Regions from separate parts of the Homo sapiens genome. Here all the other regions are linked to region 2. Evidence: fine-mapped QTL for protein levels in blood plasma. A gene starts in region 2. Each other region holds a variant in brackets. All regions are shown on one strand. Distances are between the middles of the regions. Region 1 has its middle 130 kb from the start of CEMIP2. Region 2 holds the start of CEMIP2 (cell migration inducing hyaluronidase 2). Region 3 overlaps CEMIP2 (cell migration inducing hyaluronidase 2).

The links. PIP is the chance, under the fine-mapping model, that this variant and not a neighbour inherited with it causes the effect. The UK Biobank Pharma Proteomics Project read protein levels with antibody pairs (Olink). The fine-mapping took linkage between variants from a reference panel, not from the people measured, so its PIPs are less certain.
Region 1: its variant is fine-mapped to the plasma level of the CEMIP2 protein (UK Biobank, PIP above 0.99).
Region 3: its variant is fine-mapped to the plasma level of the CEMIP2 protein (UK Biobank, PIP 0.98). The variant lies in the coding sequence of CEMIP2. If it changes the protein, the assay may bind it differently, which can mimic a change of level.

What each region holds. Positions count from the first base shown.
Region 1 is chr9:71,635,877-71,641,208 of GRCh38, forward strand. No RefSeq gene overlaps it. Among named protein-coding and RNA genes, the nearest start is that of CEMIP2, 130 kb to the right of the region's middle. The variant A/G (reference allele first, on the strand shown) is at 2,248.
Region 2 is chr9:71,767,502-71,772,519 of GRCh38, forward strand. It overlaps CEMIP2 (cell migration inducing hyaluronidase 2), which reads right to left and starts at 1,012. Exons shown (of 24, transcript NM_013390.3): 1 at 856-1,012. RefSeq lists enhancers at 670-1,351, 1,352-2,033 and a silencer at 1,107-1,776.
Region 3 is chr9:71,715,484-71,720,815 of GRCh38, forward strand. CEMIP2 (cell migration inducing hyaluronidase 2) reads right to left here. Exons shown (of 24, transcript NM_013390.3): 13 at 2,465-2,596; 14 at 1,034-1,069. Among named protein-coding and RNA genes, the nearest start is that of CEMIP2, 50 kb to the right of the region's middle. The variant G/A (reference allele first, on the strand shown) is at 2,571.

The sequences.
Region 1 (5,332 bases), 130 kb before region 2:
GCTGTTTTACTTCAGTCTGAATGTCAGTTTGAGTTCTACGGTTTAAGATCTATGTTAAAAATAAGTTAGTTATGATTACAATCATTGCTACTTTTGAGTGAATGCTGAAATTTCCACTAAATCAATCAGAATTTAACCAGTTTCTGGAAAATGTAATGATAGGTAGGTTCATCGATTGTAACAAATGCACCCCGCTGGTGCAGAATGTTGATAGTAGGGAAGACTGTGCATGTGTGAAGGTGAACTTTCTGCTTGATTTTGTTGTGAACCTAAAGCAGCTCTGAAAAAAAATAAGATCTTTTAAAAAATTTTTAAAGAAATTCAGGCTAATTCCTTCATAAGGGCAGGTCTCAGAAGGCAAAAGAAGATCATAAAAAGGTAATTTGTCTTGCCATCTAAAGCGACTGTAGATAAGAAGAGAGAATGTGTGAAGGACAGATGACATGGTAGTATGAGCCTCAAAGAAAGCCTCCTTATTTACTTCCTCTTGCTCAACCTCCCTATCAAACAGCAAGCTACAGAGACAATATCATTACATATGCCAGAAATTGGTTAAATTCTGATTGACTTAGTGGAAATTTCAGCATTCACTCAAAAGTAGCAATGATTGTAATCATAACTAACTTATTTTTAACACAGATCTTAAACTGTAGAATTCAAATTTACATTCAGATTGAAGTATGACACCAAAGAGAGAAGTGACTTGTCTAAGGGTCCACCTCCGACAGCCTGGGAGTGCCGCCGCACTGACTGGCAATGTGCTTACAGATCAGTGTTCATTTACGTTATGCAACAGAAAAGACAGAGGCTTCTAAAACTGAAGGTTCTGCCATAAGTGACTCTTGAGCAAATGAGATATTTTATAGCAGCAATTGGGGCTGCTTTTTTTTTTCAAACCAGGACATATGCTAAATGTGGATAACTGTCCTTTAGGTTAGATTATTTGGTCTGAAGTCCTTTTTCCACCTTGAATTAGCTTCCAAAAATGGAATCTCATATTTTGAAAGTGTTCTTGATAAGTCTTCAGAAATATCCCAAGAGGAGCACTGTAGTCATTTACTTAAATGGCATTTAGAGTAATTAACAGTTTTAGAATTTTTCCTGGCCTCTTTAATTATCCAGTGAGGACTAAATATTTCATCGCTCCTGCATGATTAACGTGCTAGTACAGATGAAAAGGTAAGGGGAGGTCTCTGTAGAACAGGTGCTTAATGCCTTACTTGCAATAAACATCCCAGCCACCATGAGTTTGGACATCTGGTAGAGATTTTGTAGTGATATAACATCTGGAATTTAATTTGCTACATGTAGTAGAAACTCCTTCTATTAAAAAAAAAAAAAAAAAAAAAAAAAAAAACCTCTACTTTATTCAAAGCAATTTGCAGTCTTATAATCCATTCATACCCCTACCCAGCCCTTTAGAAAAAAAATCTCCACAATGCCTATTGTGAAAATCCTTGAAATTTCTTGGCTTTGCAAAATGATAACTTAATGCATTTTAAGCAAGGTTATTCCAATTCCTGCTTCCATGTTTCCATCCATTAATGAGCTCTGGCTTTATAATTAAAGTGACCTAGTGTGATATTTCAGCTTAATTACTCAATGCTGTCATCTATTTCAGGGCCTGTGAATTCAATAGTATGTATGGAGGCCCAGTAAGAAGTGAGGGAGGAGAGCAAGCAGAGAGTTCATTTGCATTTATTGAGTTCATTCGTGTTTATGTGCACAGTGTTCTTCTCCTGTGGAAATGGACTTTTGTGACTGCTCTTTTCACAGTTCAGTAGATTGCTCTCTCCACTGCAAATGGCTGCTAGCAATAAACACCCTTACTTTCATCTGTGAGACCCAATCATTTCCTGGAGATAAAGATGGCTTAGATTAATGTAAAATACATTCCAAGACATTTCTTGGATGGAGTCAGAATATTTAAAGAAAACCTAACAGGCAGACCTTAGATAAGATGGCTCTTTTTTGCTCTCTCTCTCTCTTCTTTTTTTTTTTTTTTTTTTTTTTTTTTTTTTTTTTGCCATCCTCAAATGTGGGGCCAACTGACCTTTGGAAAGCAAGAAGGGGCTATTAAACGATATCAACCCCTTCTTCAGTCTCAGGGTGGCAGAGCTCCCTCTCTAAGAAAGCAGGTTGCCCACCAGATGAAAGGCTGGAAGTTGATATTCAGACCCTGAGTGTGCCTTTCACAGTCCTTTCTAAACTTGGCCTATGGTCAGTTTTGTGTGTGATATCAAGCTG[A/G]TAAGTATTTCTCGGAATGATTTCCTCCTCCATTGAACCAGATCCTGAAAGGAAACGTTGATTCTGGCTCTTCCCTAAATTGCTCATCCTCAGCATTTCCTACCATCGCTATCATTAAACAAAAACTGTCCTCAAATAGTTATGACTGTTACAAACATCTTATGTTCATTTCTTTCAGCGATTTCTCCTTATAATAAATTCTGCTTTTGGATCCAATATATCAAATTCAGCCTGCTAAAGCACTTACTATTTTTCTAATAATTGAAACATGAGTTTATTGCCTGTGAAAAACATGTTCAGCCCAGAAAAACACATTCTAATAGTCGAGACCTTTTGAAATGTAAACATTACATATGGGAAACATTCAATATGGGAACAGTTTAAGTGGGTTTCTCTAAGTCATTACCAGATGATCTTCCAGTAGGCTCTAGCCTCAAGATAAAATGAAACCTAAAGTTGCCTGAGTAGATTTGTGGTGATCAGCTTTAAATATATTAGACTGGGAACATATGTTTTTTAGGCAAAGGAATCTTGACGCAGCAAAACCTTTTGACATGACAGAGGAAGGAAATTGATCTGAGTAGCTGTCTGTAGTATGCCATTTGCTGTGATCGGTCTCTCGTCTAGCCTGATCTCTGGTGTCCCTGTTTGTATTGGAGCCATTTCCTGCCTGATAGTACGTTCCTGTTCGACACACCATGCCTGGGAAAAGGCAGTACCATTTACCCCCACCCAGGCACAAGCTGTAAGACGTCATCAGAACCCTCTGTTTCCGTTACTGGGTGTTGGTCATTCTGCAGGGTTTGCATCTTTCTCTATTTACTTCCTGCCCAGTTAAGGGAAATCAAAAGAAGTGTCCCAAGATTTGGTTTCAAGATGAATTGACAAAGCTCAAAAAAAAAGAAGACAAGGAGGAGGTGAAAACGTAGTTCAAGGTCCAAGATTTATAATCAGAATTTTGAAGCCTATAGAATTTATCTGTTCCTTGCTACTCAAAGTATGGTCCATGGACCAGCAGCACAGGAATCATGTGGAAGCTTATTATAAATACAAAACCCCAGACCCCACCCAAGACCTACTGCATCAAAATCTGCATTTTAACAAGATACTCAATTAATTTGTGTGTGCCCTGAAATTTGAGATATACTGATCCAAGTCAAGCCTTTTATTTACAGATAAGGAAACTGAGTCCCAGGTGAAAGGCTTATGCCAAACCACAAAACTATTCATCCCAGAGGAGCTGGGACTAGAACTTTAATATGAATACTCTGGCCAGTCTTCTTTCTCTGTATTTGAATGGAAGACATACAGCTCATGCCCTGGGGACAAAATTTCTTCAAATTTGTCATCCTCTTCAACTCACAGATTACACCTCTTCAACTCACAGATTTCTCACTCATCAGAGCTTCTTCACTTCTCTCTTCATCCATGTTAGATTCCATTACAATCCTCATCCTGCAAATTTCTGAACTCCCCTTGAACCATCTTCTCATTGTTTCACACACTCTGAGCAGAGCACCTATCATGAGTGAGCTCAACCAACCCCTTTCTCCACACCTGCACCCAAACAGCTGAGCAAGGCTGGAGAAATATCATTGAAACATACAGATTGCTGTCACTTTATATTTACAATCAGCAATCTCAACTAAGCCCTCAACAGTGTCCACTAATCTTATTATATGTCTACAGTAGTATAGTACATTTTCTACCCTTTCATACTTTTTGCAATTTCCTCAAAATTCCCACTACCTATTATCTCTCTCTCTCTCTCTCTCTCTCTCTCTCTCTCTCTCTCTCTCTCAGACAAAATCTCATTTTATTACCCAGGCCAGAGTGCAGTGGTGCTATCACGGCTCACTGCAGCCTTAACCTCCCAGGCTCAAGTGATCCTCCCACCTTAGCCTCCTGAGTAGCTGAGACTACAAGCACACACCATCACTCCTGGCTAATTTGGTTTTTTATATATTTTTTTTAGAGACAGGGCCCCTCTATGTTGCCTGGGCTGGTCTCAAACTCATGAGCTCAAGTGATCCTCTCGCCTTGGCCTACCAAAGTGCTGGGGTTACAGGCGTGAGCCACCACACCCAGCCCACCACCCATTCTCAAGTAATGATTTGTCTCCAATTTCACTGAGACAATACAAGTAATCAGCTATTAAACCTTTCAACTTTCTACCACTGGTTCGAAATCTACATACCCGTCTGCACCTGCCCACACCCATATTCTCCTTTCCCCTCTCTCCCACCTCTTAACACACTAGTTTGCAATGGGCCCTGTGAAACCACCCACTCTCCCCTTCTCAGGAAGGATTCTTGCACTATAGATCATTTTTTCTTTTCTGAATATGCCATATGTACACATCCTTGCTTCTGAATCAATCTCATCAGCATTCAGTTATATCCCAGTACCTCCCTTCTTCAACAAGAAGCAAGGAGGCAAAGCTTTGGAGAGAATTTCCTTAATTTGAATTCTCTCAATTCTCTTCCTCACAGCAGCTTCTTGAAAGAGTGTATTCTCTACACAAATACTGTTTACTTTTCATCTTTTATTCACTATTTCTTTACTTTGTTGATTTTATAAAAGTGGCACATGCTCCTTTTTTAAAAATTTAAGCAATAAAATATTTTTTAATTATGAAAACAGCCCCAGAACTCCCACAACCCAGAGATAATCATCCCTTGTCTCTTTGTAATCTCTCTTTTATATTAATATATGTCAACATGAAGGGGGATAGATAGAGTAAAAAATATAAAATGGGATATATTCTATATGCTGTGTTTTAAAATGTAAGATTTAATTGTATTTTTTCAAATGCATTTTTCCCCAAACCTTATTTATTTTTTATTGTACTTGAATTTAACAACAGAACAAGTTTAGAAAGCAAAATTAAAAGACATTCCTGGCCATTTGCAGTGGTGGTTTATGCCTGTAATCCTAGCGTTTTGGGAGGCCGAGTCAAGCAGATGGTTTGAGCACAGGAGTTTGAGACCAGCATGGGCAACATGTTGAAACCCTGTCCCTACACACACACACACACACACACACAAAAACCCTACAAAAATTAGCTGGGTGTGGTGGTGCACAC
Region 2 (5,018 bases):
GTTTTCCTAACCTGCGGAGAATTCAAGTGAGCTGTTTCCGCTCCAGGTCGAAGTCTGGTGACACTCATCAACCCTCAGCAGAGAGCATCCAGGGAATTCAGGACCTTGGTTTTATCGCTAAGGGTGTAGCCACTAGTGCTATTAACAGCAGCACTCTGGGTCCTCACAGAGAGGGCCCCCCTCCTTTACCAGGATCTCCCAACTCTGCAGAGAAAAGCTGGGAATAGGGTCCAGGGCTAAGGCTATTCCCCAGATTTAAAGGAAGCTGTACACGATTTTAAAGCCTCACCTTACCTCAGCTAACAGAGAGGCAGGGGGCGGAGGGCGGAGGACCCACCAACCCAGGGGAATTGTAAGGAGACAAAGATGACCCCAAACGCACAAGCGCGCGCGCACTGAAGCCCGGACTGCAAAGCACATTCCATCAACCTTTCACTGTAATCGGCTTACTGTGGGGTTTATCCCCTCACCCCATCCCTCTCCAGAAAGTTTAAGGCTGTTCGCACCGACTTTGAAAGGTCCATTGTTCCCTTCCCCGTAAACGTAATGAAAAGAGAGAGTGGAGAGAAAGAAATCAAGACACCGTTCCCGAGGACCCTTTCTTAAGAAGAGAGGACTGACTCCTGGGGAGTCGGGTCAGTCCCAATCCAGAGATGAAACCGGGAAAGGAGGCGCACGGGGGAAGGGCGGGAGGACGTTTTCCTTTTCGGCAGAAATGCCCAACGCCGGAGCCGGCCAGGCCGCCGGGAGCAGAAAAGGTGGGCGAGACCCGGGTCTGCGTCCCCGCAGTGGCCCCCGAGGGCAGCAAACGAGGTGGAGCGGGGTGGGGGGGCGGGTGACCGAGTCGCTTCTTACCTTCCCCTACCCCGCTTAGCGTCCGTTAACTCAGGTGCCTACACAGCGGTCCAGGGAGACGGAGAGGAGTCCCTGGCGTCCTCGGGTCCAGATCTCCTCTCCATGGCCAGGAAGCCACTCGATTGCCGGCGCCCGCAGCTGCCGCTCGTACTCAACTGGCAGCCGCAGCCTCTGCCTGGAGGTGAAATACTCTCCTCCCGAGAGTGACGCGCACTTCCCTCCGCCTCCGCCTCCTCCTCCTCCTCCTCCTCCTGCCCCGAGCCTCGGGGGCAGGGGCCTCGGCTCGCTCTCTCCCGGAGCCGCCGCTCGGCTTTCTCCGTTCCTTCCCCTCCGGGAGAAAGAGGAGGAGAATCGTGGCCCGGGCGGCGCGGGCCTGAGCGTCCCCGCGACAACAGGGGAGGAGGCGGCGGCGCGGGGCAGAGTGGGGTCCCAGGAGTCGCTCTTGTCCCTGGTCGGCGGGCGCCGCGGCTTGCTAGGGTCGCGCTCAGCCTCCGCCGGCCAGACAAGCAGCCCGGCTCGGCTGGGCCGGGAACTGTGGATTGGGCGGGCGGGCGGGCGGGCGGTGGAGAGCGAGGGAGGCGGAGGGAGAGGAGGAGCCTGCCATCAGAGGAGGCGGTGGCCCCGCCCGGCCCCTCCCGCCGGCCCCGCTCCCCGCGAGCTGCGAAAGCGGAGGCTCAGCGCCACTCGCTGCCGCGCGCTGGAACAGCGCCCGAGCGCACTGCCGGCGGGGCAGAGCCCCAGCCAGCGCCCCCCGCTGCGGCTGCAGGCTCCTACCCTTCCTGGGCGCGCACACCCGCCTGGCCGAACCGGAGCCTGTGCCTCCAGCACCCCCAGATAAGGCTGGTACTGCGCCTGTCACTCCCTGGCTGAGCCTGACACTGCGCCCCCAAAGTCCCCTGGCTGAGCGTGACTGCACCCCATCAACCCTCGGCTGCGTCAGACTTTGAGCCCCATCACCCGTAAAGAGATTTCCACACTCCCACAAATGTTCTGAGCGTCCAGTCACAGCCCCTACCTGGCCAGGCGCGAGCGCCAGGTTCTCAGCGCTGTCAGAAGAACCAGCCTGCTCTGGGACACAGGGCAGCTCTTCTGGTCCCTTGGAGCAACCCCAGCATCCCGCTCGCAGGCCGGAATAAATATACTTAGGTCTTCCCACGCCCCCTACCTGCGCCACTCTGGAGTGGCGGCCGCTTGCAGAGGTGGCGCCGAAAGCCACGCCCCGGCCCACCCCAGTGCCAAAACGCCGCTCTGAGGACACCGGCACCGGCCCTGAAGCAGCCCTGCCGCCGCCACCCTGCCCCCTCGCTGGAGCTGCTCTCACAGCCTTGGCTCTGGGTGAGGGCGCGGCCCGGGCTGGATCACTCAGACGCACGAGGTCCCGAGCTAGTGACAGCTGCAGGACTGCCAAATCCGGGCCGTCGTCATCCTCGATTTAATTGGAATTGGAAGTTTTCCCTCCAGGAAACTCTTTCAGTGAATAATATACAAGGTAGGATAGTTTAGTTTTCAGGGTTGTTCATTCCTCCTCCCTCAACAAACTCAGTCCTGTAACCGCGACACACCCGGCAGTGAAGGGGAATCCCCTATTTCAAGGGTATTAGTTCAGGACTTTGTATAAGAAATTACTGTTTCCAAATCTTGGCTGATGATAAGAATCCCCTGGGGCACTTAGAAAAAATTGGATTGCCAGACGTCGCGCAATCTACTGAATCAGAGGTATCGGGAATATGTAAGTTTGGGAAACAGGGCTAGAATGCATCCTCTAATTAATTAAAGCCTTGGAAAGATGCCTCCAAAACAGCAGCGCGAGCTAGTGCTGAGATCTTACAGAAACTTCACCCAGCTGCCTTTGAGAGCCGCTGTCCCTTCTGGGATAGGCAGGGAGGAAAGGTTTTTAAAATAAGGAACATAGTTTTGAATAACAAGATGGAAGGGACAAAAGACTGTTTTCATGGTCCAAAGGTGTTTTGGATTGTGCTTAATAAAGATAGAAACTGTGTCACCCGTGTGCTAGGCTGAAAAATGTTCCCTCCCCAGAGATAACAGGTTCTAAGTCCTGGAACTTGTGCATATTACCTTACATAGACAGAAGCAGGGCCTTCGCATATGTGATTCAATTAAGGGTCTTCTTGAGTTGGGGAGATTATTCTGGATGATCAAGATGGGTCCTAACTGCAGTCACATGTACTTTTATAAGGGGAAAGGGGGTGGTTAGCACACACAGAGGAGGGCTGGCCACTGTGGAGGCAGAGATTGAAGCGATGCCTCCACAAGGCAAGGAATGCCAGCACAGAGGCAAGGATTCTCCCCTAGAAACTCTGAAGTGAGCAAGATCCTGCTGACACCTTGATTTTGGCCCAGTGAAACTGAGCGCAGTCTCCTGCTTCCAGAAGTGTGAAAGAATAAACTTCAGTTGTAAGCTACACTGAGTTTGGGTGATATGTTGCAGCATAGGAGGCCTGTGCTGGGCCAACTTTATATTACAAATATCCATTTTTTGAATCCTTATTAAGTGCCAGGCACTTTGCTTGGAGTTAGGATATGTTATGGGATATGTTGTCTAATTAAATCCTCCCACTAATTATTATTTCCGTTTTAAAGATGGGACAGTAGGACTTGAAAATTTAAAGGGTCTTCCCAAGGCCACACAGTAAGAACCTCTTGGAATCAAGTCTGCAAACCACTCAAATGTTAAAAATAGCAATTAGGCCAGGCGCGGTGGCTCACGCCTGTAATCCCAGCACTTTGGGAGGCTAAGGAAGGTGGATCACAAGATCAGAAGATAGAGACCATCCTGGCTAACATGGTGAAACCCCATCTCTACTAAAAAAAAACACACAAAAAATTAGCCAGGTGTGGTGGCAGGCGCCTGTAGTCCCAGCTACTCGGGAGGCTGAGGCAGGAGAATGCCGTAAACCCGGGAGGTGGAGCTTGCAGTGAGCCAAGATCGAGCCACTGCACTCCAGCCTGGGCTACAGAGCGAGACTTCATCTCAAAAAAACAAAACAAAACAAAACAAGCAATTAAAAATTTATATACATTAGTCTAATAAAATTTTTGGTTTTAAAAAGGACTTATTTATTTCCACAATCTGTATTTATTGCCCAAACCAAGGGAAATGGATGTTGATTGATAGTGGAGTGGGCTAGTGGGGAACAGGGGTGTAGGAGACCTCTTTACACTTGCGCTCAATTTTGTTGTGAACCTAAAATTGCTCTAAAATATAGTCTGTTAACTAAAAAAAAAAGGGTAGGGGGATTGAATCTGTGTGTGGCCTATCTTTGAGAATTGTATAAACTTTTGTTTTTAGATATTTATCTGGAACATAAAAAATCAAAGGAAAGGCCGGGCACGGTGGCTTAAGCCTGTAATCCCAGCACTTTGGGAGGCCAAGGCAGGCGGATCACCTGAGGTCAGGAGTTCAAGACCAGCCTGGCCAGCATGGTGAAACCCCACCTCTACTAAAAATACAAAAATTAGCCGGGCATGGTGGCACGCACCTGTAGTCCCAGCTACTCGGGAGGCTGAGGCGGGAGAATTGCTTGAACCTGGGAGGCAGACGTTGAAGTGAGCCAAGACCTCATCATTGCACTCCAGACTGGGCAAAAGAGGGAGACTCCGTCTCAAAAAAAAAAAAAATCAAAGGAAACTGATGTGAAAGGAAGCTATGAAGGAAACCAACAAAGTAAGAGGACACAGACTTCTCTGATCAATGGGACTGATGTCACAGATTGAGTTCTCAGGGAAGCAGGCTCTGAGACACTGACAAGATGTTTCACCTGTGGGGGACAGGCAGGAAGCAGCATGGGCAAAGGGAGTAGCTGGGGTGTACCCAATGGCCTTCATTGATCCCACTGGGGGATCTGAGAGATGGCCCATTGGAATTATTGAGCCTAAATGACTGGACCATTAGATACCCTCCTGAATCAGTCATTGGATGTCGTTCATCCTGGGACGTGACATGACCTTGGTCAAGGCGACCCTGCAGCTGAGGCAGTCTCCAAAAGGGCCAGTTGCTGACAGCACCCAGAGCTCGGCAGCAAGTCCTTCTTTGCAAGCAAATCTGGGCAGTGCATCTCCATGTCACTCACTGATATGGTGTGGATCTGTGTCCCCACCCAAATTTCATGCTGAATTGTAATCCCCAGCATTGGAGGTGAGGT
Region 3 (5,332 bases), 52 kb before region 2:
ATCATCCTGTTTTAGCCTCCCAAAATGCTGGGATTATAGTTATGAGCCATCACACTCAGCCTTGAAATTGCTTTTAAACTATAAAAATACCTATACCTACTTATAGCCTAATATATATATACATACATATATCCCTCTTAAGATATATATATATATATATATATACTTTTTTTTTTTTAAAGAGACAGGGTCTCATTCTGTCAGCCAGGCTGGAGCAGCAACCTTGAACTCGAGCTCACAGGATACTGCCATCTCAGCCTCCAGAGTAGCTAAGATTACAGGCATGCCACTATGCCTGGTTAAGGTTAATTTTTTTATTTTTGGTAGAGACAGGGTCTTGCTATGTTGCTCAGGCTGGTCTCAAACTCCTGGCTTTGAGCGATCCTCCTGTCTTGGCCTCCCAAACTGCTGAGATTACAGGTGTGAGCCGGTATGTCCAGCCCTCATATGAATTAATAAATGATTTACAAATTATATATAAACAAACTTTAATTTAGCAGCAATAATTGATTGCTCTAGTCTCAAGCAATAACACTGAGAATGAGGAGAACAAACTTGTCCTGAATATAAGAATTAAATGACAAGCATATTTAACATGACAACTAGAATGACTATTATCTGTAGAAAAACATACAGAACAAAAAGTTTAGTTCTTAAAGAACTAAACTTGCTAAATTAGAGCAGCTTCTAAGAAAGCAAATATTAGTTTTTTAATTTTCTCCCTACTTTTACTCCCTTCCTCTTTTTTCCCCTACTTTTTAAAAACTTTAGTCTAAATCGCAAGTGTTTTCTTCTAAGCAGAAATTATCCTTCTGTGAAATTCCAGCTATATTAACCTAGTACTTTGCTATGAATTCAATTAATCCAGAAAAAAAAAAATGTATTTTTGGCCCTCTAGTGGCATCAGGAAGAGGTTGCTAATTTTTTTTATGTTAAAAAAAATAATAAAACATTCCTGTGTATTATCAGAAAAAAAAATCAAGGGTTATTTTAAAGCTTTAAAATAAGTAAGTATTTTTAAGCAATTACAAACCTGGCAAAGGTCAGTCCTATTCCATTATCTGCAAATCTGTAAAAGAAGAGAGAATGAAGAACATTTTAATTTACCATATTATGTAAAAAGAGGTAATTCTCTCAATATTTAATTATCATGAAATCCAAAAGGTCCCAATATTTACTCTCTACATGACCACACAAAAATTTGATTTCACAATAACTAGGAGCACAGAATCTGCAGTGAGGGCACCCAGTTCAAATCCGGGCTTTGTCAATTATTAGCTGTGTGACTTTTGGCAACCTACTCAACCTCTATCTCTCACTTTTCCCATCTGTAAGTTGAAATGAAAATATAACCTTCCTCATAGGATTCTTGAGAGTATTAAACATACTAAATAATTTCTAGTGTTGGCAAGGTATGGTGGCTCATGCCTGTAATCCCAACACTTTGGGAGGCTGAGGCAGGAGAATCGCTTGAGCCCAGGAAGTCAAGACCAGCATGGGCAACACAGGGACACTCTGTCTCCACAAAAAATTTAAAAGTTAGCAGGGCGTTGTGGCACATGCCTGTGGTCCCAGCTACTCGGGAGGCTAAGGTGAGAGGTTTGCTTGAGCATAGAAAGTTGAGGCTGCAGTGAGCTATGATTGCACCACTGAACTCTAGCCTGGGTGACAGGGCAAGACCCTGTCTCAAAAAATAATAATTTCTAATGTTAGGAACAGTGCCTGGCAAACAGTAAGCAGTGTATCAAAGTATTAGCTATAATTATTATTTTTATAACTATGTTTTAAAAACAACTAGACTGTGGTATATGATTCTGAAGCCATTTCTACAGATTCAACACAGTATCAGTTTTTTGGATGAAAAAACTCAGAAATGATGTGAAATGCCAAGAAGCTAATTTCAGTGCCAGAAAAAAAAATACACACACACATTTTTCTAGACTGTTGAACACTAAATCTTAGCTCAACATGCATGAGACCACTCCTAAAATTATACAAATGGGAAAAAAAGTGAGATACTTACTGCCTCAAGTCATGTTAAGATATAAGTCAACAGATTTACTGAGTTGGAATTATAAAGCTTTTATTTTGAATGGCAATAGAAGAGCATCAGAAAAACTAAGGAGTTTTCAAGAGGAAGGGAAAAGATCCAGGTAGTTTTATTTAGCGCTCTGACATAGACCATGCTTGTTATATAAAGTTAAATTCCCGGTTTCTGTTCAATTTCATCAAAAACTCTCATGTCACCGGATAAGTTCTGTTCCAATAAAAGCACCAGAATGAGACAACTTCAAACATTTGTGGTCTTTTAACTCTAGCATACTTCCTCAGAGCTTGTCCTGTCTTAATAATAATAATATGATTCCAAGAATCATCACTGTGCTTTCATGCTACTGGCTTTAAAAAAAATCTGAAAAATAATACATCAGTGTCATCATATAATAACTTGGTAGAGAATACCCACGCTGAATTTTGAACGATAATATCTCCTCCTCTGACCCAAGCTCCATTATCATTATTTTTAAAAGCAATGAGCCTGTCAATTAGAGCAGCAACACGTGGTTTTTCGG[G/A]GTTTGCATCCTGATGAGGTCGAAATCTAGGGGTTAAAAAAAGAATTTTAAAAAATATAACATAAAAGCCATAGGAATTAGCTAGTTATAAGTTTAAGTGTCAAGAAGCAGAATTTAAATTTGACCAAAACAAATGAAAAATTCTTAAGATACAACTTACTTACATTTTAAACATTCAAAGAAGAAATTACATTTATTTAACCACAAGTTTCCAGAGAACCAACTGCTTTTACATCTTCTTAGTTTGTTTTTGAAAAATCAATTAAAATGGACACTGCAGAATATTATTGCATAAAAATCATTTCCAAAAAAACCCAGATCAGGAAGTATGTCATGTGTGTTTACAAATCCTTAAGGTACATGTTACCAATATAAACTTATTTAATAAATTAATAATATATTTCAACATACATATATGTGAACTAGAGTATAATTTGAGTTGTATGCTGGTTAAATGTTTAGATATAGACAAAACTGGGTTCAATATCATTAAAATGCCTAAATTTAAAATAGACTGTATTTTTTAATATTTTCTTTTTTTGAGACAGAGTCTCACTCTGTCACCCAGGCTGGAGTGCAGTGGCGCAATCTTGGCTCACTGCAACCTCTGCTTCCCGGGTTCAAGCATTTCTCCTGCTTCAGCCTTCTGAGTAGCTGGGATTACAGGCATCCATCGCCACACCCACCTAAGTTTTGTATTTTTAGCAGAGACAAGGTCTCCCCATGTTGGCCAGGCTGGTCTCGAACTCCTGACCTCAGGTGATCCACCCACCTCAGCCTCCCAAAGTGCTGAGATTATAAGTGTGAGCCACCGCACCCAGCCAGACTGTATTTAATTAACATATTTATTATAAATACTGAACTTCACCTTTTCTTTTTCTTCTCTCTAAAACAGTTATAAGGACCTTACTGAAAAGGTAAAAACAGTTGGTGTCAAAAACTGTCCACTATAACAACTCAAATAGTCAAACGGCCCCATGATGCTCAAATACTCAAATACATGATATTCAAATACTCAAATGGCCCCATAAGGCCACCTATTTTTTTTTAATCATTTCTGTCTTAATCTTACAAAACGAACGGAAGAAAAAAAGAAATCACAGCTTTTCAGAAACCAATTCAACAGGTAGAGATTTTCAACCAGTGAGGAAACATCATTTGCCTAATGCTAATACCACAGCTGTTGGCACACAGTAGGTGCTCACTAAATGGATATGATGGCAGAGGCAGCTATCGAGAGAAAATAGCAAGTGCAAATGTCCTTAGGCATGAGTGAGCTTAGCATGTTCAGGAACAGCAAGGAAGTTTGCTGGAGAGAAAGAAGCAAGGGAGACAGAATAGAGAGGAGGGCAAGGGCTAGGTAAAGATCTGGGTCTCCATTGGAAATGCAATGGGAAGTCAATGGAAGCATGGAATCAAGGAAGGGATGTGATCAAATTTCTTTTTTGTTCTTTTAAGAGATCACTGATTGCTATTTGGAGAATGGATTATAGAGAATGGACTCTAAGGAGACCAGTCAGAAGGATCTTCATGTGTTTCAGACAGATGCATGTGTGGTATAAACTGGGGTAGTAGCTGCGAAGATAAAGAGTGTCATATCCATCTTTAGATTATATGGCCCAAGTCCCTTTACCCTAACTAGCTCTGACTTAAGAGGTAAAAAGTTTGACTCTAAGCCAACATCTACTCTCTGGCATTGTAGTTCCTGCCAAACAGCTTTGTAGTCATTACATAATAGTAAGCAGATGGAAGAGTTCCGGAACGGAGACATACTGTTCTAAACGAAAGCAAAAAAAAAAAAAAAAAAAGAGTACTATAAGGCAGCATCTGATTCTCTGCTGTAACCATCTCAACTTCTCTGAACTTCCTATCAATATAAATCAATCACGACACCCCCACAGTGCCCAGGCATGTACAGGGAGAAAAAAAGTAATCAGTAACTGACCACTTGCTTTGATACCCTTTATTTCCATCTTCTTTCCCACTTGGCATATAGACAATAGTTACTTTTTCCCGATTTTCTTATTATCATCATTGAGTTTTCAGCACACTTCTCAACTGTCTCTTAATTGTCCTCTGCTTTAAATGTACTAGGTGGTTCTAATGCCCTTTCACTCTTGTAGATTAAATTTCCTAATTTCAAACCAAGAGCTTTCTTCAGTTAAAATTTTCCATCTTTGGATTCCTATATTTTCACGTCTTGAAGACACAAGGAAAGGCTTATGTGATTAACAGGTTTTTTTGTTTGTTTTTTTGAGATGGAGTCTTGCCTTTTTGCTCAGGCTAGAGCGCAGTGGCATGTTCTCAGCTCACTGCAACCTCCACCTCCAGGGTTCAAGTGATTCTCCTGCCTCAGTCTCCTGAGTAGCTCAGATTACAGATATCTGCCATCATGCCCAGCTAATTTTTTGTATTTTTAGAAGAGATGGGGCTTCACCGTGTTGGCCAGGCTGGTCTTGAACTCCTGATCTCAGGTGATCCACCCGCCTTGGCTTCCCAAAGTGCTGGGATTACAAGCCTGAGCCATCACGCCCGGCCCTGATTAACTGTTCAGTCAGCTTCCTCTTTGATGAACAGATTAAATATCTTCTGGATCTTCTAAGCCTGGTGTTTAATATATGAGCTGGTTTATTACTCATTTATGCTAGTTTTTATCATTTTTACCATGTCTAAATTGCATGAATATATATATGAGCATAGTCTAAACACTAGTTCAGTATATGCACAAGCTCTTGTTCCTTTTCTGCTATAATCAGTTCTTT